Regions from separate parts of the Homo sapiens genome. Here all the other regions are linked to region 3. The links come from fine-mapping of genetic effects on gene expression. A gene starts in region 3. Each other region holds a variant in brackets. All regions are shown on one strand. Distances are from middle to middle.

What was found.
Region 1: its variant is fine-mapped to the expression of TFB1M in testis (GTEx, PIP above 0.99). The same link has a PIP of 0.9 or more in whole blood.
Region 2: its variant is fine-mapped to the expression of TFB1M in whole blood (TOPMed, PIP above 0.99).
Region 4: its variant is fine-mapped to the expression of TFB1M in skeletal muscle (GTEx, PIP 0.93).

What each region holds. Positions count from the first base shown.
Region 1 is chr6:155,248,768-155,253,918 of GRCh38, reverse strand. It overlaps TIAM2 (TIAM Rac1 associated GEF 2), which reads right to left. Exons shown (of 27, transcript NM_012454.4): 21 at 3,950-4,068; 22 at 2,898-3,006; 23 at 1,916-1,974; 24 at 866-971. It also overlaps a transcript of TFB1M not described here. Among named protein-coding and RNA genes, the nearest start is that of CLDN20, 13 kb to the left of the region's middle. RefSeq lists an enhancer at 1-136. The variant G/A (reference allele first, on the strand shown) is at 2,822.
Region 2 is chr6:155,259,370-155,264,496 of GRCh38, reverse strand. It overlaps TFB1M (transcription factor B1, mitochondrial), which reads left to right. Exons shown (of 7, transcript NM_016020.4): 6 at 4,097-4,224. CLDN20 (claudin 20) reads right to left here and starts at 484. Exons shown (of 2, transcript NM_001001346.3): 1 at 209-484. The variant G/C (reference allele first, on the strand shown) is at 2,683.
Region 3 is chr6:155,311,775-155,316,925 of GRCh38, reverse strand. It overlaps TFB1M (transcription factor B1, mitochondrial), which reads left to right and starts at 2,442. Exons shown (of 7, transcript NM_016020.4): 1 at 2,442-2,630. The coding sequence starts at 2,498. RefSeq lists enhancers at 1,628-1,677, 2,228-2,277, 1,359-2,349, 2,348-2,667 and a silencer at 2,098-2,177.
Region 4 is chr6:155,233,566-155,238,716 of GRCh38, reverse strand. All of the region lies in intron 15 of TIAM2 (TIAM Rac1 associated GEF 2), which reads right to left. It also overlaps a transcript of TFB1M not described here. Among named protein-coding and RNA genes, the nearest start is that of CLDN20, 28 kb to the left of the region's middle. The variant G/A (reference allele first, on the strand shown) is at 3,054.

The sequences.
Region 1 (5,151 bases), 63 kb after region 3:
TTAAGAACACTTGTAAAGTTGAAATCTCATCAGTTAAGAAAGTCTAATATTCCCAGTCCTGGCTCATTTTCTTCTGTGGCTTGTTCTATGTATGATTTTCACAGTTACAAGAACTGAAATGCCTTTTGGTTACTTTTTACATTTCCTGCTGCAGATTTTCCTCCATCTGAACTGCCTTCACCCTCTCTCTGGAGCCCCTCTCTGGGGAAGAGGAGATTCAGTGGATCCTATTCTTCAACCTCCTTTGCAGTTTTGCCCTTTCCTTGGAAGGAACAGGAGCTGGGGTACTTGAGGTAAAAGAGGCCTGCCCCAAATGTGGTCATTTTCTCGAAAACATAAGCACTTCTGACAAAAGTTAAACAGAAGCCCAGCAGGTCACTGCATGACTCAGCCTGCTGGCCTCTTCTGTCACCAGATACCTGTCACCAAAACAAGGTTACTCTGGAAGGATCTCTGAACATTTTCCAGAGTCAAAGATTTTTTTCTTTTTATATCACCTACAGTACTACCTAACCTTAAGGAATTTTCTGCTATATTCTAAATTTGTAAAAACATAAATTTGTGGATCTTTGTTCTTCTAACACATTTTAGGGTATCAAGGCAGAAAGGAAAATGTTGAAAACTATTGATAGGGAAAATAAGGAAACAATGAAAGGCATTTGGCAAAGAAAAAGCTATCCACCAGCATTTAGTTTCTCCCAGAAGTCTGCTAAGGAACATCAAAACAACCTCTCTTGTCCTCATTTTCCTTGTCTATAAAATAAAAGGCACCAAAAATTATCCCCAAGGTCCTTTCTTAATTTACATTCCACAGTTAAGTCTACTAAAATGCTTTTTCTGGCATCATACTGCACGAAACAGTTACCTGCTGGATTCCCCAGTCTGACTTGAAGCGCGGAGATGGGGATCAACCAGCGGAATTTAAATGGGTCCAAGTCAGTAGAGTTGTGTGCAGGCCGGGAATTCGAGGGCTGTAACATGAAGGCCCACCAAGAAAAGTGTTAGGGAAGCTGTCACTGAGGGAGGATGTGTGCACAGTGAATAGAAGTTTATGTTCTCCCTGTGGGCGAGTCTCCGAGCAGCCATGTGGGTGTTCAGGGCACAGAAGTCAATCAGCTACGCACCCAGTTCTCAAAGACCTCACATGCTAGGGAAGGTGCGGAGGCAGAGTTGTGGTTCAGAAGCAGTTACAGGTCTCAAAGCAAGAACAGCAGCCAAAGCTTCCACGCCCTGACGCTGCCTCTGAATGGTAAACCAATGGCATATGGTATCCACAGCTAGGCTTTGCTTTTTTCTGAGTGAAGGTAAAAGGCATTTGAAAATAAACCAAAGTTTCACAGACTATGTTTATGGAACAAACATGGGCCATTTTCAGGGATATAAAAGTCGATGTTCTATGTAGGCCCCCATATGAGTATTTATCTACTTTATTTACTTATTTATGTATTTATTGACAGGGTCTCACTCTGTCGCACAGGCTGGAATGCAGTGGCATGATCAAGGCTCACTGCAGCTTCCACCTCCTGGGCTCAATTGATCCTCCTGCCTCAGCCTCCCGAGTAGCTGGGACTACAGGCACGTGCTACCACACCCAGTTACTTGTATTTTTGGTAGAGGCAGGGTTTCACCATGTTGGCCAGGCTGGTCTCAAATTCCTGGGCTCAAGCCTCAGCCTCCCAAAGTGCTGAGATTACAGGCATGAGCCACCGTGCCCAGCTGTATATCTTCTTTTAAAACAGACATCTTTCATGGGGAGACTCAGAAACGCTCTCAGTATGTGATGGGGTTAGTTACCCTCAGAGTAAGCAGTATCAGTCAGCCCAGCCTTGGTGCTCAGTGGGCTTTTCAGTTCAACGTTAATAGGAAGATACAGCTATGAAAAGGTAGCTTAAATTAAAATGAATTTTTGCCTTACCAATTTCTTTTTCAGTTTGCAGTTTTCTTTATAAACCAGTATGACGGCTCTCTTAAAAACTAAAGAAAGGAAAAGAGAAAGAAAGTCTTTATTTTATGCAAACTCTTCCAAGGTTAAACTAGAGCTGAACGTCTTAACAGAGTAACACTCTCCAAACGTATGAGTCTCTAAGACCTCACTCTGCCAACATGAGTGAATAAATGGTACTTCCCTTTCGCTCATATTTGAACTATGCAGAAGCACCTGCTTATTTAAAAGCTACTATTAGAAGTTGATCTTGGCTTTTTTAAACTCTTTGTTTTATTGAAAGCTGAGGACACTGTGTTCATCTCAGTGACAATATACTGTCACTTGTTCTCCCAACTCTCAGAATTAAAACATTTGAAATACAGCAGACTATTAAGATAGCAGGTTTCTGGCCAGGCACGGTGGCTAATGCCTGTAATCCCAGCACTCCAGGAGGCTGAGGCAGGTGGATCACCTGAGGTCAGGAGTTCGAGACCAGTCTGGCCAGCATGGTGAAACCCCATCTCTACTAAAAATACAAAAATCAGCCGGGCGTGGTGGCGAGCACCTGTAATCCCAGCTACTCAGGAGGCTTAGGCAGGGGAATAGCTTGAACCTGGGAGGTGGAGGTTGCAGTGAGCAGAGATCACACCATTGCACTCCAGCCTGGGCAACAAGAGCAAAACCTCGTCTCAGAAAAAGAAAAAGAAAAAGATAGCAGGTTTCAAAATAGCCGCAGGGATCTGTTCCTGTAACACTTGGCCTGAGCCAAGCAGCAGAAGGGAGAACAAGATAATGAGGATGCAGAGCGATGCCGGAGTTTCAAATAGTTGGGGGCTGGCCCTGTTAAGTCCCCAACCATTATAGCAATTCTGACTCCTGGAGCTCAGGAGTGAGCTG[G/A]ACTGGTGCGGCTAGTGAAGTTCTTCCGTAATCCCAGCCTCTGTTCAGTCTGCATTCTTCTGAATGGAATACTAACCAAATACTGTGAGCTCAAGGTCCTTTCTAGCTTTTCCTAGAGACAGAAATGGATTCAACCAGGAAACCGTAGAGTGCATCAGAAGCTCTCCCATCGAAAGTTCTGTTACCTAGATTGTAAAAACAGGAGGTAAGGAAGATACGGAAATCCCAGGCTAGATGATCTCTTGTTAGATAGTGATGTACACACAGTCATTGCTAAAATGCAAGCACAGCTGGTTTAATTTTTATGATACCTGTAAACATGGGGCCTTAAACGGTGGAGCTTTTGAAAATATGAGTTAAGCACCCAAGTGTCTGATGAATAACATAAAGGTGAAGGCATTTTGCTCCAGTGCACGCACATGTAGGTGAGACATGCCTTGTGACCAACTCAGTTTCCATAAGATGAACTCTACCAGTGTCCGTGGTTCTTCCAGAGTGCCTTTTGTAAGCTTTCCCCTGGGATCTAGTACATCCATCACCTCTGAGCTCCATTCGGGCTGCTGATAAAAGAGCACCAGCATTGAAACTGGCCAGAGTGAAGGACTGATCTCCAGTCCTTTCCTGTTCCTGCCATTTTCTCCCTAAACTATGCTACTTCCTGCATGCTGGCTTGAGAAGCACAAGATTCTAAATTAAGCAATCAGATAAAAAGGAAAAATACAGAAAATGTCAAATCCTGCTTGGACTAGTTTTATAAGTAAGCAGGTAACCACCAATATTTGATGTTAAAAAAAAAAAAAAAAAAAGGCAAAATCAAAAAGGAAAAGCCCCAGACTCCACATGCCAGTTCCCATGTCCTTTCTCCACCCCACCCTCTGCCAGCTCTCACCCTCCATGGATGTTCCAGACAATGTGAACGTGACATAAGGTTATATTTTAAACCAGTGTAATGAATTTTATGATATGTCTATATGTAAATTGTGTAGTTCATTAGACACATTGTTATCAAGAAAAATCTTAGGCATTTTCTCCTCCAGGAAAGTCCTAACAGGGCAGCCTATCTAGAAGGTCACCTACAGACCCCACACCACATGCACTAGGCTCCCAGGGTGCAGATGTCTCACGGACCTCCTTCTCTGTTCCGCTCTGCTCAGCTACTAGCTGGTCAAACACGGTCCCATAATCCTCATAGATCTTCTGCATCTCATTGATGTGGCTCGCTACTTTCTCCATTGCCTTTAGTGCTTCTGCAAGATATGAAATCATATTTATTTCATAACTGTTATTTGTTTTAGATTCTATCCAACAGTAATAATGAATGGAGTCAAGATTCAACTCAGGATTCCAGACCAGTACCCACTAGCAGGAGCATTACATTCAGAATAAGTCACAACAGCCCACTGTAGCCCAGCCCTTAGAATGAAGAACAGCAAAATTATCTCCTACTTCAAATTCTTTTTGAAATGAGACAGAGTATCAGTGAAAAGTATCACTAATAACAACAACTGACATTTCTGGAGCACTTTCTACTTAGCAAGGATCACGACAGGTGATTTCTGTGAATCATCTCATTTAGTGCCCGCAATAACTCAAAGACTAAACCATCCCATTTTACAGATGAGAAAAGTGAGTGCAGGATATTCTGCCAGAGTTCCAGAGAGGAAAACACAAGAATGGAGCCAGGCTTCAAACCCAAGCCTGACTGGGCTTAGGGCACCAGCTCTCGAGTTTGGCTTGCCCTTCTGGGAACCCGGATCTAGGTTTAAATGGAACTTAAAAACACCCCAGTACATGACTGACTGACAGAACAATTGTTTGCATTTATATATGGTATATGTTCATAACTTTCCGCGAGGGAATATGAGAGATACATTATTTTATAAAAGCCAAAAAGCAAAATTTTAGGTCACTTCTAAATTCAGTATTCTTTATACTTTTTTTTCTCCCAATTCAGCATTTTAATTCTAACTGGAGGGAAGTTTGGAAGGAAGTTTTTTAAATCAAACCCTTCTAAAGATCATCTTAATACAAAATGAAGTTTTTACATAGTATGAATGCTGAACATAATTTGTATTATTTACTTATAGAAGTTAACTGTCATACAAAAATGCTTTCCTCTTGTTGATTTTGATACCAAAGTATGCTTGTCATGGAAAAAAAGCCAGTTTAATTTACGCTCTTCTCAGTATTTATTATTCAGTAATACTAAAGTGTTAATAAGCCTCTCTCTCCCCATAAATTTTATCACCTATGGTTTAATTGGACCTCCTAGTTTCAACATATGAACAAATCACTATCTCCAACCCAAATAAAGCCCCTCTTTAAGGATC
Region 2 (5,127 bases), 52 kb after region 3:
ATACTTAGAATGCTGTCAGCTTTAAGGTTTTACAGTGGAAATTCTTTCCTTAAATTGGCTTTTGGACATGGATCACAGGTAGAGTGAACCAATTCCAGAAAATGTGATCTACATTCACATTTGTCAGTATTTTCTTTTTCTATGACATGCATAATTATCATATCACAGGCATCAGTGACTTGCTGCCTCTACCTGGGATTCTCCTTACCTGGGAAAGTTGTAACCTCGAGGCCCGTGATGTCCTAAAGTGGACTGTCATTAGCTTGGTGGAGGTACTTGAAGAGCAAGCAGACACTGGAGGGTGGGGAAACCAAGCATCCGGAGGCACTCATCTTGCTCCGTTGTTTTACCCGACAGTGAAGTGGCTCTCCCAAGCCCCTGTCCTCCTGCGTTCCATTTTGTGGTGCCTATAGCCTGCAAGATGCCATATGCTTCCTGTTCCCAACCACCCAGGTCTGCCCGTGATCATCCCACTTCGAACTTTGAATCCTTCTTATATGTTGTTCTTTAAAGTCTTACTGATTATTCCCTGTGGTCTTTTTTTTTTTTTTCACTAGCCCTTCTGTTGTCTTAAGTTATGGCTGTGTCTTGGCTATTTACATAGTAACTTCCTCATCATTTTTTCATCTCCACTATCTTGTCCTCTAATGGTCTTGAACACCGTGAGAGTGTTGAATGAAGACCCTTTTGTAGACAGTGGCCAGCATTGTTTCTGTGTCTGTGCATGTGGTCGTGACTTAGCTTTTGGGCATATGATAATCATCAGGAACTGAGTTGTACGTCTCTTCAGTGTCCTCTGTATATCATGTTGATTACAGTTCTCAGTTGTAATATCTAATATCTAAGATTTAAGATTTAATATCTCCTTAGCCCGGGTCCCTTGTGAGTTCCAAGTGCTGCTCTGAGCTGATAACCAGTCACGTCCTAGACACCCTGGCCTGGAAACTAGGACATCTGCCTCGGGCCTGTTATGGCCAAGGCTGCTAACACTGAGAAACAGTCTTAGCTTGTTACAGCGTTGACGTATAGGGTTAGAAAGGCAAATATTTAAATTCATTTTAAATCCTTTCATTTGAAATTTTAGTAGGTCATTTTGGTATACTGATGGACTGAGTTTGGAAAAGGCTGGCGGCATTAAACTAGAATATTTTAAGTACTTCTGATGCCTTTGTACTGATTTCTTTTTTGTAATCAAACCCATTAATAGACTTAAAACTCAAGGAAGAAAAAATAATACTTGTAATTTTAAATAAGCATTCAATTATAAGTAAAAAACATTTTTGTATTCGTTACCATAGTTACCAAGCAGCTTTCCTATAGTTCTAGAAAAAAATGGGCTCCATCATTCAGAGTAATTCTGAAAGGTGCCTTTGGGGGAAAGGGAGAGGAAGGGGTGGTACAGGAGAGGTCCTGGCCGTCCCAGAAGCAGGAGACATAACTGGAAGAGCTTTGTTGACGCTGAGTTTTACAGAATCTCCCACTAAATAGTAACTGCATTTGTGAGGGGAATTCTCTTTTAGCCGTGACATAATATAAGCCAACTTAACAGAGTATTGGAATTGTATTCAAACTTTAGAAGTCGACGCTATAGTTTACATGGGGTACTACTATATTTGTTCAGGGTTTTAAAACTTTATTTAAATCAAGCAAAAGTTAGACACTTCCTGTATTTGCAAATACCAACTATATCTCAAAGGAATGAAATCAGGCAAATAAAGATGAGGCCAAAATTTAAAATCTAAGGAAGCTGAAAGTGGCAGTTTCTGTACTGGAAGAGAGTGCATCTATCTCTGTATTTGTGCTTTTGGTCTTAATAGTTTGTAAGCCTTATGTAGAGTTTTGATAATATTTCATGGTTTTAGGCCTAGGCAGGGATTAGATTTTATCTCAGATTTTGCTAAGAGTATTTCTTCTGGAGACTAGCAGGCTGCTAGTAAGAATTGATAGAATTGGCTCTTTGTCACTGGGAGAACTGGAGTTGAAGGGTTACAGGAGATGAGTCCTGGAGAACGGGAGGCAGGGACAAGGGTGCCAGGAAGCTCAGGGGATGAAAGGGAAATGGAGAGTCCAGTGAGAGAAGGCTGGCGAGGTGTAGAGAGTGGCCAGACACATGCCTGACAGTTGGGACCACTTCTCTATACAAATCAGGAGGAGGCGAGGTAGGCAGGATAGTTCAGAGTTTGTGGGAAGGAACCTGACATCTGAAGTCAGTGGAGTGTGTCTTGGGCTGCTGCCTGCACTCTGCCATTCATAGATCAGGTCTTCTTTTTCCTTCCCCAGAACTGCCCTGAGCTGAAACCACCTTTCTTCTCTCCCTATAGCAGTACATCTACCCCACCTACACCCTGCATCCACTCCACAGCCCCTTGTCTTCTTCAGTCCCTCTTTCCCTGATGACCACAGACCTCTCCAAGCTGGGCACTGTTCTATGGTGCGTTTTGTTAAAGTCTAAGGGAAGTCCTGTAGGAAGAGGTAGTTGTTACTAAACTTGAGGAAACATGAAACAACATATAGCACACAATTCAAAAAACTTACTAAAATTTATTAAGAGCATTTGACATCTTAGTTAAGTCACTGTTCATAACTACTGTTCCACCATAGAATCTTCACAAGAACAGCCTGCTGGACTTCACAAGAAGGCTGATGGATGTTGGGGGTGGGCATTTGGGGTGTGGAAAGGCC[G/C]CTTGGCACATTCTCAGCATGCGCCAGCCCACACCGCCCCTTACCACCAAAGCCTTCTATTTCCCATTCCATCCAGTAGGAGCAGCTGTAGCTGACCTGAAACCTTCGGGGACAGGCTCATTGATTGTTTAAATAGGGAGGTGCAAGCTCTCAGGGGTCCGGGGCCTTGATGACACAGCTCAGGCACCACAGGCACCTCCCACAAGCGCGTCAGGCTGTGTGAGGCTGAGCACAGCTTATTTTCACTTTCTTGTCCATAAAGTCTCACATCATATTCAGTTGTTTTCCTTCTACCCTAAAAGAAACACAACCAGAAAAGCCAGTCTCCCATTTTCATCTGTTTAAGGAATTATGTAGCCACAAGGATCTTTAGAAGCAAGTCCTCTTAGGAGAAAATGACAACCTCTATGGGATTTCAACAATGGAGTTCCTTTTGAAAAGCAGTGGTGCAGCCCACACCTCCTAAATTGCCGTACTTTCTTCGCCTTTTGTTGAGTCTGTATGAGATCCTCATTAACAAGTTTAACAATTCCTGGAGACTGAGGCTTTTGTCAATTATGACGAGACTTCCCATTTCCTAGACCATGGTCTCCGTTAGCATTTTTGTGTGTGTAGTTACTGTTTTGAATCCATTTCCCTCTGTCTTTAAATGTTTTTCCTTTGGTATTTGAATTTGTCCTTGTGAATCACCATGAGTCCATTTTTGGAACAAATCAGGGTATAAATCTCTTATAAGATATGCCTGAAAAGTTTTATCTTCTGACAATTAAAGAATCTCCACAGCTGGCAGTAGCTTAAACACTATCAAACAGTGACATTTTTTGATGGTTTCCATTTTCAATTTCAGTCCTGCCTATGCCTTTCGGGGCATTTAAAATTGCTACTAGAAAGTTCTGTGGCTTTTCAGACTACACTCATGAATTCAGTCCAGCTGATTAATCAGTGTCTACCGAAAATAAGTGGTGTCTCTATCTGGGAAGTTTAGCACTGAGTGGTCCCTGGGGGCCTGTCTGCCATCTCTCTGTGTCTTGAAGCTGCTGCTGCGGCTTATTTTTTTCCTCATTCAAAAACTAAAATATTCTAATGCCATCTATTATCTGCTGACTGACTTTAATGATTTGGATTGATTTTTAAGCCATTGTGAAACTGTGTTTTAAAATTAAGTGACCATCAAGCACAGGTCTGGTGGATGTCATTAGAGAACAGGTGCAGCCGGCTGATTTCTCCATGTCATTTGCGAATCCAGAATGTACCATCTTCCATGCCTAGAGATGAAACCGAAGTACGTGGAAAGGTCTGTTTATGAAAACAGGCTGTTGACAGCCCATCCTCCTGTTTTACAAGGATGAGTTGATTGATCACACTATGCCACATATCATGCCACAGAATGATAATATGTTTGCTTACAACGAAGGTGGACGTGGGCGTGGTGCACTTCACTCCCTTGATACAGCCCAAGATAGAGCAGCCATTCAAGCTGGTGGAAAAAGTGGTTCAGAATGTATTTCAGTTCCGAAGGAAATACTGCCATCGAGGGCTCAGGTAAGAATGCCTTTTCTTCTCTTCAGTTGCAGTCTTTATAAAATCCTCAGGCACTTTTTAAGAGTGAGAACCTTGTTTGCTCTATTCTTAAAGCTCTGAGTATTACACTTAGTTCAGGCCTGTGACGGACAAGACTTCACTGCCAATGAGGAGAGAGCAAAGACTTGCTAGACCTCAGGTGGCCTCTCTCAGGGTGGCTTAAACATAAGCGCAGCCTGGAGTTGGTGACTGCACAGCTCACAGAGGCTCTGTACCAGGGAGCTCGTGGTTCCCCAGTGAGGACTCAAGACAGATAATAATGGGTTTTTTAAATGCTTGCTTTCTACCGAGTTGCCCTATCTCTTCTTTAAGGACACACTTGAGAACTAGGAAGCAAATATGACTTCTGAGCAGCCAAAATCATATCACGAAGTCCTCACGTAAGCACGTTTCCATCTCACAGAAAGCTGCTGCTGCCAAGAGGCTCTCAGGAATCACTGGGAAAACCTGACAGGGCCTGGTGGTCTAGAGGTCGCCCACCTCGATGGGCTCTGAAGGACCACAGCCTTGTTGCAGATCCAGAAAGAGCCAAGAAGCTGTTTAGTTAAGCCCAGTGATAGTCTGCTTAAGAAGGCAGGAAAGTGTATTTGTAAAAGATTTCCATCTACGATAATCTATCCATAGTCCGCTGTTTAAAGAGGCTCGGCGTGAGAGGCACATATTTCTCATTTTCTAAAACCTCCTCACATGGCTTCATTGTAATTCTCTCTTTCACAAGGTCCGAAGTGTCCCTTTAGCATATGAAATGACAGCAGATTATTTTAGGGGCCAGCTGGGCATCAGCTCCTAAGAGTGCTGCAGTCCACAAAGCCCATTGCTGAGGATGCCAGATGGCAGAAGCTGGAGCCTCAGCCTGCCACTTGT
Region 3 (5,151 bases):
CCTAAGTGGGTGATTAATTGATTGAGGTAGAGCTCTCATAAATGGGATTAGCAACCTTATGAAGAGCTGGAGGGAATTAGCTAATCCCTTTTTGCCCTTCTGCCTTTGGACATGTGAGGACATGACATTCCTCTTTTCTGGGGGATGCAGCAACAAGATGCTATCTTGAGGTAAAGAGAGCAGCCTTCACAAGGCAACAAACTTGCCAGCTCCTTGATCTTGGACTTTCAGCCTCCAGTACTGTGAGAAGTACATTTCTGTTCTTTATAAATTACCCAGTCTCAGATATTTTGTTATAGCAGCAGGAATGAACTAAGACACATCTTTGTGAACCTACATCACAGAATTGAAATGAGAATTAAGTAACAAAGGAAGCTGCTTTATAAATAGGTTCAGTTATTGAAGATGGCATGGTATAAACCATCCATAAATTCATATTTAGATCTGGGGACAAATTATCAGGAATCTACAAATTCTCCACGCAAAGGTGTTTCACTCATTTAGATTTTAGTTTGTTTTTATGTTGATGTTAATCTTTTAAAAAGCTCATGTGATTATATTTGGGGTCATCTGAACATCCTCTTTATACCTGTTACACAACGTGTGTGTTCATGGTAGCATTAGTGCCAAATAATTCAAATTCACTTGTTTCCAAGCTACTGAAAACAGATGCAGGCAGACTTAATATGTAGCTTCCATATTCTTCCAAAAGAAAGACAAGCGACAATGGAAAAAAAATTGAACAAAGATTTGGTAATAGTTTGACTCCAGAAAACTAATGAGAACATTCAGTCATTACATGGCACACTGGATCACTGGTAGGCTGAAACTTAAAAAAAAAAAAAAAAGAAAACCTGCCAGTTAGCACTAAGTGTCGTGATTTAACAGTGTTCATCCTTGTCAATTAATAAGACCATTTGTATTGGTTTTGTATATATTTATTGCAATTGTTTTAAATAGTCATATGAAAACTGTAAGCTTATGTTTACACCTAGATTCGTATTTCTATATATTTAGATGTTACAAAATTAACACATATTAACTTAAAAATAATAAGCTGATACTTGAGTGTGGCCAGTGAGATCAGAACTCAGAAAAAACACAACTCAGGTTGTCTTCTCTCTGTACTTTGCTGTCTGACTCTGGGCATTGTCAAATGACCTCACCTCCCCTATTTCTTCACAGCAAACTAAGAATAATAATCTCATTCACATGGGACCATTGTGAGGAGTACGGGAAATAATGAATATAACTGTGAAATAATGCTTTGTCAGGTATACTGTGTTTTGGACGATAAGATATCTGAATCAAGAGTTTGTACTTCCAGTCTACATTTTGATGCCACGTTGGGCAAATCTCCTTACCTCTATGGTAGTCATCACTATTTTTTAAAGCTAGGAGATTATCTCAGTTCCTTTTAAAACAGCTTTTATAGAAGGTGGTTGAGTTTTCCACTGGAATTTCAAAGTACTCCTCATTTTTATATCCATACCCATAGTTGTTTCGTTTTCCATTAGCTTTTTTAAAAACTTACTAATTGAGGAACAGAAACTTTAAAATTCATTTGTGATCAACGCAGCAATGTCCAAACATAAGCAGGGTTAAAACAGCAAAATTCTCCCACCTATCAGAGAAACTTTAATTTTTTTTTTTTTTTGCTTCGTTGTTTTTATCTCGTATAACGGAAAGACAGAACTCATATTTCAGTCTTCTCTCTGTTCTTAGCTGTAATCCTAGCAAATCGAATGACCTCTTTACACTGGCCAATTATTCATCTGCCAAATAATAACAGCCACCACTGATCACGTGGGAGCTTACCCAATGCCATGCGTGCACTATGTTCTGAACGTGCACACCAGGCGATCTCTCTCATTTAGTGCTCACAATTTTGAGGTAGACATTAGCTCCATTTAACTGATGAAAAAACTGAGGCTGAACGAAGTTAAAAACCCATCATGCAGCATCTGCAGAGCGGCGGTTCTAAAAACGCCTCACAGTAAGAAAGAATTGCTAACAAACAGTAGCTTTGCCTCTAAGCACCCGCTTTTCCTCTAATATTCACAGACAGGTATTTAGAACGTTAAAGAGCCGGAAGCCCTTGGGAACTTCAGGGCGGGAGTAAACCGGCTGCACCTCTCAGAGCAACTCCTCCGAAAAACCCCACCCTGTCCAGGCCCCGCCTCGTCCCGCCCTCCTGGGCGCTCTCCCCATAGCCCGCCCAGGAGAAGCCTAGTCCACCCGGCTCTCCCCCGGCTCTCACAGGCGGAAGCCGCCGACCACCCAGCCTGCCCTTCTCGCGGCAGGACTTAGCGCATGCGCTCTCAGCACGCCGGGAATTTCCTGTCCGCGGTCATCGCTTCCGGTGGGATAGGTCTGACCAATGGGGCTGACTCCGAGGCGGGCCTTAGGTCTCGCAGGTTCCTCCCCTGCGCGTTTCTTTCGGAGCGGCGGTGAAGGTCCTGGGTGAGGTAGGGTTGGATGGTGCTTGCCGCGTATCATGGCTGCCTCCGGAAAACTCAGCACTTGCCGTCTCCCTCCGTTGCCCACGATTCGAGAAATCATTAAGTTGTTAAGACTGCAAGCAGCGAAGCAGCTATCACAGAATTTCCTCCTGGACTTGAGGCTGACAGGTGGATGGCTTAGCAGTGCTCCCCGGATGTCTCCCCAGTGTCCGTGGGGGCGTGGGCCGGGGGGTCTTGCACGTCCCCGCGGGCGGGTGTCCAGGCACTGGCGTGCGACGGGCTTTTGGTCAGGTCCTTCGACCTCTTTGTATCAGAACTCCGGTCCCACCGCCCAGGAGACACGTGAAGTGCGTTGATTGCTCACAAAACTCCGCGTTCGGGGGGGTGTAGCCTGCCGGCAGGCTGCATAAATGCCAAGCTCCCTAGGGGAGGAAGGGTTCATGGGTCGTGAAAGGCGCTAGTGAATATTGGAATCTGGGTCACTGTGAAATCAATCATTCTGAAATAGTACAGCACATGCTGACTGCAGTTGCTTTACATGCAGTTTAAAGTTACCAGAATTTAAATTGATGCGAGGATTTTATCAATAACTTGGTGAAAAGAGTATCCCTCGTATGATTCGTTTTTTAAACGTTTACCTGTTCAGTCTAAGCCTCGGGGGCGCTAATATTCATTCATAAGTACATATTACACAAGCAACATTGTGCTAGTGCCGGGGGTAGGATATGGGCGTGAACAAGGCGGTGTTTCCTCGAGGAGCTTACTTTTAGCAAGTTTACATTCCCACACCTAATTGTTTAAAGTTACTTTTTATGAGATATAATTTATGTGCAATAAAATTAATAAGTTTGAAGTGCTCAATTTGATGAGTTTTGACGAATGTATTTATATATTGGTTTAACCACCATCACCATTGCTTAGTGATGTTCTATGAGATGAGGTTGCAAAAATATATTACAAATACGTCTACTAAGTCACGGCTGGAGTACTTAGGTTTTGAGATTTTCATATTTCATTCTATTTAGTCCCACTTCAGAAGTTGAAAAGAGCAGTAAATCACACCCAAAAAGTTCATTTTCACTTAAATGAAGCACACTCCAGAAAACATAAAATGTTTTATTTCTTGGACATGTAGTCTTTATTCTGCCTGTACCAATATGACTTTGGATAAAATAATTTAACTCAAGTTTTCTCTTTTTTTTTTTTTTCTTTTTTTAAGATGGAGTTTCACTCTTGTTGCCCAAGCTGGAGTGCAATGGCATGATCTCAGCTCACTGCAACCTCCGCCTCCCCGGTTCAAGTGATTCTCGTGCCTCAGCCTCCCAGGTAGCTAGGATTACAGGCGTGAGCCACCGTGCCTAGCTAATTTTGTGTTTTTAGTAAAGACAGGGTTTCACTATGTTGCTCAGGCTGGTCTCAAACTCCTGATCTCAAGTGATCCACTCGCCTCGGCCTTCCAAAGTGTTGGGATTACAGGTGTGAGCCACCATGTCCAGTAGTTTCCTCATCTTTTAATTGGAAGAAGGGCCTACTACTTTAAAAGATTGCCCACTCTAAAATTCTTTGGTTCTAGTAATAGCTAGTACCAGCCTTTTCTGCTTGTTATTAGCCACATTCTAAATATAAATCACCATTCTCAGGGCAGAAGTTATAGGTCTGTGTATTTTTTAAAATCCTTCAAATACATTTTCTCATGAGCCTTTATCTTCAGGAGTAAGTTTCAAATTCTAGATATTATCCACTCTTTCTATGGGAACCAGAGTTAACGGAGATGAGGGTACTTAGCTGAGGTTAGAAGCTCAGGCAGAAGAGAGCAAGATTGAAATCCAAGCTCATTGATTTGATAGCGCTTCTTTAATATTCATTTGTATTTCAATGTGCCTGAAAAGTTTGAGAGCAGAGACCTGCCTACTGTTGTAGCTCTCCATTTTAAAGAAGGAGAGTATTAAATTTATTCCATAATGTATCATTCCTGTTCCCTCTGAGAGGCATTGGCTTTAGGATTTATACCTATGTTGAAGTCCATGACCTTGTACAAATAAAACAATAGACAAGGAAACTGAAAAGTTAAGAGAAATGAAATTGGGATAGGAGTCCTTGGTTAACATGTAAGGATTAGGTGAGAATGTGTGTAAATCCATCATAATAGATAAGATGGTCAGTGGATGCTAATTCCCTCCCTGTTAAAAGACTAAACCATTTTTGGATGGCTGAGAAACTAGTTTCCGCATTTTAGCTGACAAAGTTATGTTGTTGAAAACAAGCAAAAATAGGACTGTGAACACCTACAAGAAGTGCTGGTATGTTTTTAGTGACTAAATTTCCACTATCCTAGGAAGACCAGTTCCTTGGATTTCCATATCTCAGAATCACTAAGACCAGCCCATTGCATGTTTTTCCAGATGTGATGACTGGTTGCACAGAGTCAGTACTCTACCTTTTTATGATGTCTTAAGGGCTGCTAACTTGAATTTGATTAATTAAAAAATTAATTTTTCTGTATTAACATGCATGTGTGCAAAGCTTTAAAAACCCTCAACTGCTCAATTTAACTTTTTCCTGAAAATGACTAAGAATTCAAATTTCTGAAAATCTTACGATCTAAGAACTTATTGCCATTGCCATAGTGACCACCACCAAGATGTCTCTAGATAAAAATAAGACTTCAGCACTTTTTGCTTTTGGATTT
Region 4 (5,151 bases), 78 kb after region 3:
CATTAAATGAATAGAGGCAGCATTTTAGAATCGGTTGTCCAGGAAGGCTTCGGTGAAAGGGTTGTAACATGTCCTGGAGGGAGCCTGCTCCAAGGGAGAACCAGAGAATGTGCCAAAGGTGCAGTGGGAAAAGGAGCCCAGTAACGTTCCAGGCCTACCTCAAGGGGCAAGTAAGGGTGAGACCCTAACAGATGTCTGCCATGGGAACTCCCAGATGGCTGAGCTCCTTCAGTAGAATCGCTTCTCTTTTGAGTCGGGGGCACTGCTGAAAACATAACTGAAAACGTGGAGGCAACTTCAGAGCTGGGTAACAGGCAGAGGTTGGAACAGTTTGGAGGGCTCAGAAGAAGACAGGAAAGTGTGGAAAAGTTTGGAACTTCCTAGAGACTTGTTGAATGGGTTTGACAAAGATGCTGATAGTGAAATGAATAATAAGGTCCAGGCTGAGGTGGTCTCAGATGGAGATGAGGAACTTGTTGGGAACTGGAGCAAAGCTGACCCTTGTTATGTTTTAGCCAACAGCTTGGCGGCATTTTGCCCCTGCCCTAGAGATCTGTGGAACTTTGAACTTGAGAGATGATTTAAGGTATCTGGGAGAAGAAATTTCTAAACAGCAAAGCATTCAAGATGTGACTTGAGTGCTGGTAAAGGCATTCAGCCTTATAGAGGAGGCAGAGCATAAAACTTTGGAAAATTTGTAGCCTGACAATGCAATAGCAAAGAAAATCCCATTTTCTGAAGAGAAATCTAAGCTGGCTGCAGACATTTGCATAAGTAAAGAGGGACTGAATGTTAATCCCCAAGACAATGATGAAAATGTCTCCAGGGCATGTCAGAGGTCTTGGCAGCCCTTCCCATCACAGGCCTGGAGGCCTAGGAGGAAAAAGTGGTTTCCTGGGCCAAGCCCAGGGTCCCCATGCTGTGTTCCGCCCAGGGAATTGGTGCCCTGAGTCCCAGCCACTCCAACCATGGCTGAAAGGAGCCAACACAGAGCTTGAGCCATGGCTTCAGAGGGTGCAAGTCTCAAGCCTTGACAGCTTCCATGTGGTGTTGAGCCTGCCAGTGCACATAAGTCCAAGAATTGGGGTTTCAGAACCTCCACCTAGATTTCAGAGAATGTATGGAAATGCCTGGATGTCCAGGCAGAAGTTTGCTGCAGGGGCAGGGCTCTCATGGAGAACCTCCACTAGGGCAGTGCAGAAGGGAAATGTGGGGTTGGAGCCCCACACAGAGTCCCTACTGGGGCACCGCCTAGTGGAGTTGTGAGAAGAGGGCCACCATCCTCCAGAGCCCAGATCCACTGACATCTTGCACCCTGTGCCTGGCAAAGCTGTAGATACTCAACACCAGCCTGTGAAGGCAGCCAGGAGGGAGGCTATATCCTTTAAAGCCACAGGGACAGAGCTACCCAAGACCATGAGAACCCACCTCTTGCATCAGTGTGACCTGGATGTGAGACATGGAGTCAAAGGAGATCATTTTGGAGCTTTAAGATTTCACTGTCCTGCTGGATTTCGGAATTGCATGGGGCCTGGAGCCCCTTTATTTTGGCCAATTTCTCCCATTTGGAATGGCTGTATTTACCCAATGCCTGTACCCCCATTGTATCTAGAAAGTAACTAACTTGCTTTTGATTTTACAGGCTCATAGGTGGAAGGGACTTGCCTTCTCTGGGATGAGATTTTAGACTGTAGACCTTTCAGTTAATGCTGAAATGAGTTGAGACTTTGGGGGACTGTTGGGAAGGCATGATTGGTTTTCAAATGTGAAGATATGAGATTTGGGAGGGGCCAGGGCAAAATGGTATGGTTTGGCTCTGTGTCCCCACCTAAATCCCATCTTGTAGCTCCCATAAATAATTCTCATGTATTGTGGGAGGGGCCCAGTGGGAGATGATTGAATCATGGGGGTGGGCCTTTCCCATGCTGTTCTTGTAATAGTGAATAGATCTCACAAGATCTGATGATTTTAAAAACAGGAGTTTCTCTGCACAAGCTCTCTTTGCCTGCTGCCATCCACGTAAGATATGACTTGCTCTTTTATTTTATTTTTTTGAGACAGAGTCTTGCTCTGTCACCCAGGCTGGAGTGCAGTGGCACGATCTCAGCTCACTGCAACCTCTGCCTCCCGGGTGCAAGCAATTCTCCTGCCTCAGCCTCCCAAGTAGCTGGGATTACAAGTGCCCACCACCACACCTGGCTAATTTTTGTATTTTTAGTAGAGATGGGGTTTTGCCATGTTGGCCAGGCTGGTCTTAAACTCCTGACCTCAGGTGATCTGCCCACCTCAGCCTCCCAAAGTGCTGGGATTACAGGCATGAGCCACCATGCCTGGCTGTCATGGGTGTTTCTTAAAAAAACTCCCCCAGGTGTTGCTAATGTGTGGCCTGCATGAGAACTGCTGGTCTACTCTTCATACAGCTCGCGTTCTGCTTGGATTTCTGGGAGTGGTGCTGGCTCCAGTGGGATCACCTGTCCCAGGGTCCCCACTGAGGTATGTGGACAGAGCTCACGGGCTACAGGAAATTGACGGAATCACAGCCATGACTCTGGTGTTCTGGTTGTGGCCTCCTATGAAGTGAGCTAAAATGTTCACGATGATAATACTCGGACTCCAAGACTCACTGATTTGAAATCTCTGTACTGGGATTTGCACCACAAGCTCAGACAATATAATTCTGCAGTCCTGAAAACTAACAGTTCCCAGGGCTATAGAATCTATATTAAGCTTGAATATACTGTATAAAATAAGATCTGATAAAATACATCATAAGTTAAATGGCATCTGGTGAGATTATGGCTTTGCTTCACTGGGATGTCAAAAATCACACCTAACAATGCAGTGTTAAAGTAACGAGATCTTACAAATAAAGTATCTTGCCATTTTAGAAAAACAGAATTCACTTTATGAACTTTTCTGGTAAGATTAACTCCCAAAAAGTGAATGTTAGCTGAGATTTTTCATAGCAGATTTACTTCTTAAAGTACCACAATTAAGTGTTCAAGTGCTAGAAAGCCACCTTTTGTACACTTAACATTTTAGCTGTTGTCTAA[G/A]GGAGTTGGTGAGGATTACTTGGGACCAAAAGGAGGCAGGGCCCCCAAAAGGAGAAGAGTAATTATAAGTGTGTCTTTTCAGATTGTAGCTGAAGGAGTCACTTGGGTGATTACATTTCAGTTCACCCACTGTTCGTGATGTTTACAAACATTAGAGGGACATTCTGGGTGAACCTGATCAGCACTTTATAGGAATAGTGATTATCTGGGCTGGGATATCTTCACATGCATATATGGTGATAGGCCTGAAAAGCACAGATGAGAGTCAGAAGGCCTGGGCTGCAGTCCAGGCTCAACCCCCAGCCTTCTGTGCACTCCTGGGCAAGTCTCGATTCTAAGTCTTCAGTGTCCTTCCTGATGAAAAGGCAGCAGGAATGCCTATTCCATCAAGTAACTGCTAAAATTGCCGTTTGGGTCAAGAAGAAAAGGAAACTCGTGTTTGCCGAGCAGCTGCTGTGCACAAGGCACAGTTGGGAGGTTTCTCACAGAACATGCCAGCATTGCAGCTTTACCATGACTCTCCAGGGCTTTCCAGCTGAGGGGCAAGGAGGCTTCAGCGAGACCTTAAATGGCACAGGGCCCGTTCCCCTCTCTAGCTCTGCTCCATCTCTAGCTCTGTTCCCCTCTCTAGCTGTGCTCTGTCTCTAGCTGTGCTCCATCTCTAGCTGTGCTCCGTCTCTAGCTCTGTTCCCCTCTCTAGCTGTCCGCACAGCCCCTGCCACTCCCAGGTATTTAGCAGAGCACAGGCAAAGCAATCTAGTTCCTCACGCCTCCTGCTGCCTCTGCCTCCCATGTGGTCAGGGCTCTCCTGGCCCCAGGTGTTCTAGGGATGCAGCCACCTGCCTCTGGAGACCACCTCTGCTTAGAGAGGCAGAAACAGCTCATATGCAGACAACTGGGACATCTATTGAGCCTATTCCACCCCCACCCCAGGAATGCTGCTTTAAAAGCAAAAGACTGGTCTGGCACAGTGGCTCATGCCTGTAATCCCAACACTTTAGGAGAATGAGGCAGGTGGATCACTTGAGCCCAGGAGTTCAAGACCAGCCTGAACAACATAAGGGAAACCCATCGCTACAAAAGATAAAAAAAAATTAGCCGGCCATGGTGGCACACGCCTATGGTCCCAGCTACTCAGAAGGCTAAGTCAGGAGGATGGCTTGAGCCCAGGAGGTCAAGACTATCCTGGACAACATAGGGAAACCCATCTTTACAAAAGATAAAAAGATTAGCTGGCTGTGGTGGCACATGCCTGTGGTCCCAGCCACTAACGATGCTGAGGCAGGAGTTCAAGGTTACAGTGAGTTATGATGACACCACTGAGTGACAGAGTGAGGCTCTATCTCTAAAAGTAAATAAATAAAAGCAAAAGACAGATGATCATAACTTAGGGCTGGGAGTGTGAGGATTCAGTGGCCTAACAGGATGTGCATATGCAGAATAAAAAACACGGGCACTTGAAATGGGGGCCTCAGATTGGTTTTTTCCAGTTTGTAGCAATCAATGCTACAAACTTGGGTCCATCACAGGCCTCAGCTTTCATAAAAGAGCATGAAACCAATATTTTCTTTAAGAAGTCATAAAAAGATTAAATAAAAACATTTTTTCCAAAAATTATGCTATCTGGAAAAGCAATGATATTGAACCCCAACCCCCCCCCAAAAAAAATTTTCTCTCAAATTGTTTTTGTTTTGTTTTTTTGAGACAGGGTCTCACTCTGCCACCCAGGCTGGAGTGCTGTGGTACAATCATAGCTCACTGCAGCCTCAAACTCCTGAAATTAAGCAACCCTCCCACCTCAGCCTCCTAAGCAGCTGGAACTCCAGGCGCATGCCACCATACCCAGCTAATTCTTTTGATTTTTAGTAGAGAAGGGAGGGTCTCACTATGTTGCCCAGGCTGGTCTCAAACTCCTGAACTCCAGCGATCCTCCCACCAAACTGCTGGGATTATAGGCGTGAGCCACCATGCCGGGCCTTTAGTTCAGGTTTTTAATGTTATACTAAGGTTGATCCCTGCTTGAAAATGATTTTATCTTATTTATAGATGAGGAGCATCCCACTCAAGAGCTCTGAATTCAGGCAGACGTCTAAGCAGT